Linked DNA regions of Homo sapiens. The protein of the gene in region 1 purifies or fractionates together with the protein of each later gene. This does not show direct contact. Each region holds a gene or a part of one and is shown in the gene's direction. Other genes may lie near its edges.

Region 1 (3,500 bases):
AGCCGGCACCCGCTGCCGGCCGTCCTGGGTGGTGAGGGCTTCTGTGAGACGTGGCCTCCAGTAGTGGGCAGTTTCCTCCCCTGTCCCGGACCCCGCAGTTTCTTGGTGTGCCTGCTGTTCCTGCTGGTGTGAAGTGTGACTGCAGGTTCCATGGTCTAGTGAACAGGGTCCGGGTTCCCTTCCTGCAGTAAGCCTGGAGGAGAGGCTCTCCCAAAGTCTTCCTGATAGTTCTCTCCTTGCTGCTACCTTCTTCAAGTCACTGTTGCTGACAAGCCCAGAACATACTCAGAAACAGAGAAAACAAGGACCAGGGCTCCATCAGTTTTCAGTTTCCAATTCTGAAGATCCCTCTTTTGATGGCATTATATGATTTTCCTAATGGCCCAGCCAGAAACTTGAATCTGAACCTCTCCTCTCGGGCATCCTCTGGAAAGGAGGCAGTTTGCCGGTTCCCCTGGAGCAAGTCTTGTTGCCAGGCAAGGGGAGAGTCAGTGCTGCCCCGTGCCCCTGGCCTCGTCCCCTGAGCTGGGCGTGGGGCCCTCTCTCCAGGGGAGCCTGCAGAGTCAGATGCCCCAGCAGCAAAGCTGAGCGAAGCCAGAAGCGTGAGGGTCAGTGCACGATGCTGCTCTACCCATGGAGCTCCCGGGGCGTGGCATGTGCCTGTCAGCTTCAGGCCTCCGTGGTCCTCTCTATAAATGAGGGGTGAGGGGGCCAGCTGATTTGAAGGGCTCCTCCCAGATATACCATCCTGGCACTCTGGTGCTAAAGGCTTCCTTAGTTTCTTTTTTTTCCCAAAGCCTGGGAAGCCCCCAGACACCCATAAGCACAGACAGAGCCTGGGCTTCAGGGTCAGTCGGGTCTTTTTGTTTCACTGGAACGCGTCTTAACAAAGCCCGCTGGCTCCAGCTTCAGAGTCCCCTGTCAGCCGCTGGGAGCTGGGCCTGCCTGGGTATCTAGGTTGATGCAAGTCCAGTTGCAGGCCCCCGTCCCAGCTCGGGATGGCAGGGCATAGTGCTTGGCTCTGGCACCATGCCCTACACTCTGTCCTGGGGGAGACAAACCTGAAGCCTCCCTCTTGTTCCCTGACCCTGAGATGTGAGAAAGGGTCAGCCAGGCAGAGAGAGGGTCTGTCTTCTCCTGCCCCCGGCCCTGAGTGGAGCTAGACAGTGAGCCACTGTCACCAGCACACATGGTGCGTTCAAGGATAGAGAGTTAAGCCCTTGCCAGTGGATTCTGAAGGAAAACCCACTAGAGTGACAGGGGAGGAAATAAACCAAAATCTAAAAAGCCGCTCAGAAGCACTGACTGAGTGGGGCCCGGGCGGCCAGGGCTTCTCCCAGGAAGTTCTCCAGATGACAGGCGGTGAGAGTCTCCTGGAGGCCCGCCCTTCCTGCCATGCGAGGAAGAGGGTCTGCCGTGACCCTTTCCTCAGTGGCCGCCCCAGCCCAGGCCCTGGGTCTGATCTCGAGGCCTGGCGGGGATGCAGCATGGTTCTCAGCTTCTTTCATCTGCATTTTGGACATCGGTTTGTCCAAGTTCCCAGCTTTGCAGACTTCTTCCAGCTTAAGTCTTCCCGGATTGCAGGAGGTAAAAGCTGTGACCAAGGGAGATAGGCTCAGAGGACAGGCAGCAGGACAGGAACCCCATCTGCCTGCTTCAGGGCACTCAGCCCTCCTGGTCTGTCTCCTTTGTTGCCCAGAGACCCCTCTGTCTCTGGCCTGAGGTCCTCAGTGGGCATCTCCCCGGGCCTGTTCTATGAGATCGTCCATGCTGCTGCGTAGAAGTGGCCTCCTCTTGTGAATAGCAAGAGGCAGATTGTCTCATCCGCAGGGGCATCAGCTTGTCCAGGCTCCCGGCCTTGCACAGCGCTCTGCCCTCTGAGCCCGTCTGGGGCCGTCGGGGGGCCTCTGCCCCTCCAGCTGAGCATGCTGGCCCTCCAAGCCCAGGCCTTCCTAGGAGAGAGAGCCCGTTTGGGCCATTTCCTGAGCCTCCAACAGTGCAGGAAGCCCGGCCAGCCCTCTCCTGCCTCTCCCCTCCTCTTCCCTCCTTGTGTGTGCATCCTGAGTGCTCGTGACTGGAGAGGGACGCTTTCCTGAACTGCATGTGCCAAGATTCCACTGAGGCTCTGCCATGGGCTTTTTTGGATCCTGTCAGTTCCTGAGGTCTTGGCAGAAGCAGTCTGGATGGAGAACCAAAAATAACTCCCTGACTCAAGGAGGGCAGGTGGCCTCCAGCCCCAAGGGCCCTGGGAGCTGTGCCTACAGCCAGCAGTTGGAAGATCAGGGTGCAGAGCCAGCCTCACCCTTCCCTGCCCTTGCTAAGCCAGGATTTTAAGGCTCATTTCAAGGGGTCACTTTTGCATTTAAAAGAGGGAGCTGGAGAGGGTGATGCTCAGCTCTGAGCCAGTGGGGCCCATGCAGGAGGGAAGAGGGAGCCCTTGGCCCACGGCAGGGTGGGCCTGGGGCAGAGCCGCCCTCTGGAGAGCAGAACTGCAAGGTCCAGGGTGGGCGGGATGAAGTGGGAGGGGTGAAGACCACGTCCACTTGGGCTCGCCTTTTCTGCACATCCTCAGGCTGAATCCCCAGTGATGCCTCCTGACCTCTGTGGAGCTCTGACTCTGTGGCAGGTGCTGTCCCAAAAGCTCTCTGGTGGTCCCTGCCCTAATTCTCACAGCAGCCTTCCGAGGGGGCACTGTTGTTATTAGCCCATCTATAGAGAAGGAGAGGGAGTACACAGCAGCCCCCAGGGAAGAGGGTCACCCTCCCTCCTTCACTGAGACAGAGAGTGAAGCCTTCGACTTGGGAGGCTTTTCTGAGCAATGAGTCATTCGTTCATTCATTAATTCATTCCATACAAATCCCCAGGCTGAGTTTTGGAGGAAACAGGGTGAGTGCAGGAAGCTTCTTCCCTGGGGCAGTAAGACCCAGACATTCCTTGGCAGCCCCATGAGATGTACGGTGGGAAGCTGGCTCCGGCTGCAGTGAGGACAGGCAGACCAGGCAAAGTGAAGGAAGGGCACGTCTTTAGGGCAGAGGTGTCAGTTTGGGGCAAGCCAGTGAAGGTGGGTGGGAAGGTGGGGCTGGGGCCGGCACACCAGGTGGAGGGACAGCTGGAGCAAAGCTGCGTGAACCAGCAGGGCGGGGCTCTGGCCAGGCGGCGGAGAGGAGCCCAGCACTGACTTGCTGCCTCTGGCCTCTGCCGGCTGCCTGCAAGGTGGAGGGCAGACACCTGGTCTCCTTCCGGTAGGTCATGCGACCGGGATGAGTCTGCTGCGGGTGTGGTTCCGGGCGTTAGTGTGGGCCAGCGTCACGGAAGGCCCGGCGTGTTGACTGAGGAGGCTGAAGTGGCCAGAGCCCGTGTGCGCTGCTGGATGGAAACCCAGCATGGGGCCGCCACTCCTCTAGGCTTCTCCTTCCGGACAACTAACAGAACCACGGCGTGGAAAGTCCTCACGGGATGTTCACAGGGCCAAGGCACTGTCTTAGGGGACACCAGCCTCT
Region 2 (3,500 bases), on another chromosome or scaffold:
CCACTCCATCAAAGTTTGACTCCAGGAAAAACAAAAACTAACGTTTAAAATATATAGGGAAAGCCAAAATATCAGTAGGAGAATACAGTGATTTCAGTTTACTTTGTCCTTGTGAAATGACTCCCTAGTTCTAAAAAGCATGATGTTCTGTGCTGTGAACATTGAGGTAGCATCCTTTTGAAATCTCCATTTGTGTCATGTTCAGGAAATCATAAATGAGCAAATAACAATTCATTCTGGTAGCCCTAGTTTTCAGTTGTCTCATTTAATTGAAGACCTCCACTTCTCTGCATTGACAACTGAGTTACTCGGGTGCTTGGGGTCTGGGTCATTAGTCAGCATCATCATGGTCATAAGCATTTTCAGGGACCTCAGAGTGTGCCATGTGCCCTACAGGAGGCAAGGGCACCTGAGACATCCGCCTGTTCTGTGAGACAGTGATTTCCTGCCCTGGTTTTTGCAAGGTTACTACCTGTAGTGGCTCCCCTGGTTCTCAGCATCCCAGCCCTCTGTAGCCCCTGCCTTGCCCAGTGCCTCACCCCTTCCCAGTGGCAGGAGCCAGTGGGAACTAAGAGCCTTCAGTGTAAGCCCTTATTGGAGCTAGGACTGCAGGTGAGATATGTTCTCTGTAGTAGCGTGTAGTATTTCTAGATATTTACTGATAATTTATGCAATACTTAGCTATGTATGCCCTGCCGCACCCTGTTTCCTTCTCTTACTCAGGTGCTGTCACACTTACTGGTCCCTGACACATACTGTTTACATTGTATCACACTAGGCTATAATATCCCATTTACCCACCCAATTTTTTAACTTAAAATATTTTTAAACCTGGCTGGGCGCGGTGGCTCACGCCTGTAATCCCAGCACTTTGGGAGGCTATGGCAGGTGGATCACCTGAGGTCAGGAGTTTGAAACCAGCCTGGCCAACATGGTGAAACCCTGTCTCTACTAAAAAATACAAAAATTAGTCCGGCGTTGGTGGTGCGTGCCTGTAATCCCAGCTCAGGAGGCTGAGGTGGGAGAATCACTTGAACCTGGGAGGCAGAGGTTGTAGTGAGTCGAGATCATTCCACTGCACTCCAGCCTGGGTGACAGAGCGAGACTGTCTCAAAAAAAAAAAAAAAAAAAAAAAGTATTTTAAACTTCCTTAAAACTTCTTAAAATCAGTTCAGTTATACAGTGTTAACATTCTCACCTGAAAATACTTAAATGGTTGGCATGATAGGAAATTTGACATTTATGTAGCTAAATTATTTGTATTTCATTTCTCTAGTCTTTAATCTTATGGTTTAAATCTCTAGATGGTACCATTACAGCGAGATTAAAAACAAAGAAGTCTAAAGGAAAAGGAAATGTAAAGAGAATCATTCTTCCACTCTATGCTTTGCATTAAAGGATATTTAGAATTGAAGGTTAAGACTATTGTGATAAAACAATAACTTCCAAGACATTCAAAGTGTTTTACTTACAACATTTCATACATTTTTAAGTAGATTAGAAATATACTTTATCATATTTTCCAAGCATATCACAGGGAAAGTAGAGAATCATCTACTACCCTTCTTGACCAAAGTGCCTCCACCTTTGCCCCTGTGATATGTCCTATACTCAATTATGTGAAGGAACCTGCCTTTCCCCAACATAATGTACACTTTCCCACCTCCAGGCCTTTCCTCAGGCTGTTGGCTGTTCCTGGAATACCCCTGCCCTCCCTCTAGATGGGTCTGGAGAATCTTAACCAATCAAGCTTGAAGGCTGAGCGCAGATGTCACTTTTTTTGTATGTGTGGAGGAGGAGAACTGGTGTGGGAAAATCAATATAAGCTTTGGAACTAGGCCACTGGGCTTGTGATTTCTGGTTTCATTACTTGTCAGCTTTGTAAACTTGGTCAAATTTTAAAACTTCTCTGAGCCCCAATTTCCTTATCTGTAGAATAGGGGTAAAAATACCTAACTTGGAAGGTTGTTTTGGGAATTAAATGAGATAATGATTACAAACTGTTTAATGAACTCTGACCTTCAACAAATGATTTTCCCCTTTTCCTCATGCAACCTTCCCAGAATCTCCTCGTCACCCAAATTGAAATTATTCTCCCCTCCTATTTTCACACTGTAGTTTTTTTGTGTGCCTATGATAACACTTGTGCCTGTCTGCCACAAGTTATTTGGTTTCTTAGCTCCACCCTTAAGTTGCACATTGCCAGGAGGCCAGAATTGGTTCTTACTCAGCTTTATAATCTCCAATTTCTTGCACCTATTAAGTGCTTAATAAAGGCTTGCAGATTTTGAATGAAGAATAGTTTGCTTAAGGTGTGGAAAGGGTTAGTTCATTCTTAAAGGACCCATTAAATACGCACTATTTACTAGGCAAACAGAGAAGCAGAAGTGGATAAAGCAGGAGAAGGGGTTAAAGAGCTTACAAAATCTATTAGGCTGGGTGAGAAATGCAGCCAAAATATTTGTAATATAAGGTAGGCACATGGTACAATATATGGGCTAACTGTTAGGAGTTAGTCTCCTCCCCCACAGTTGGGAGAAATTATATCTAGTTCATGAAAGAGGGACCACAGAAGGCTTTCAGAGAAGGGGTTAATTTTAGTATCGATGGAAAGACAACTCTTGGAGAGGCAGCCAAAAAAAAAAAAGGTTTGGGAGGGGGTCTTCCAGGGAACAGAGTAGGCATGGAAATGGAAAATCACCAGTGACATGCACAGAAGAATTGATGTTAGTATCCTTTGGCTTTGGATAGGAAAACTGAAAAGGAAAGAACTGGCCTACTGAAAAGTTTCATCATTTTCTATTGGGCTTCCCCTCCAAGGTCTGTGATGAGGCATGGACAGTGAACACAGGCAGCCTGTCTTACACATAGGTGAGTTTCCTGCTCTACAAAAGGAAAGATACATGCATCTTCTTTTTGGTTCCTGGCAGGCAACAGAACTTTTAAGTCACCTTGAAAGGCAAATTATGGCATATTTCTGATCAGTAAGAAAGCCGGAAAGCTCACTGATTCCTGGTTCCTGCCAGATGGTTGTCTCTTAGGTCTTAGTCTTCACTCCAAGTTATCTGGGCCCCTTCTCTCTTTCATCTTTTCTTTCCTGAAAAGGGAACTACTACTATCTTTTTTTTAACTTTTATTTTAAGTTCAAGGGTATATGTGCAGGTTTGTTATATGGGTAAACTCGTGTCACAGGGGTTTGTTGTACAGGTTATTTCATCATCCAAGTATTAAGCCTAGTACCCATTAGTTATTTTTTCTGATCCTCTCCCCTCTCCAACCTTCCACCTTCCAATAGGCCTCAGTGTGTGTTGGTTCCCTCTGTATGTCCATGTGTTCTCATCATTTAGCTCCCACTTATAAGTGAGAACATGTGGTATTTGGTTTTCTGGTCCTGTGTTAGTTTGCTAAGGATAATGGCCTCCAGTTCCATTGATGTTCCTGCAGAGGACATGATCTCATTCTTTTTATGGCTACATAATATTCCATGGTGTATATTTACC

Evidence for each region. Proteins that work in one complex are often made in the same cells at the same time.
Region 2: the proteins of OLFM1 (region 1) and BMAL2 purify together in Homo sapiens (affinity purification with mass spectrometry; 2 studies listed by BioGRID and IntAct, with this or other methods). This does not show direct contact.

What each region holds. Positions count from the first base shown.
Region 1 is NC_000009.12:135,101,168-135,104,667, forward strand, and holds part of OLFM1 (noelin isoform 4 precursor), read left to right. Parts: intron 1-3,500. UniProt on the Homo sapiens protein: Contributes to the regulation of axonal growth in the embryonic and adult central nervous system by inhibiting interactions between RTN4R and LINGO1. Inhibits RTN4R-mediated axon growth cone collapse.
Region 2 is NC_000012.12:27,335,836-27,339,335, forward strand, and holds part of BMAL2 (basic helix-loop-helix ARNT-like protein 2), read left to right. Parts: intron 1-3,500. UniProt on the Homo sapiens protein: Transcriptional activator which forms a core component of the circadian clock.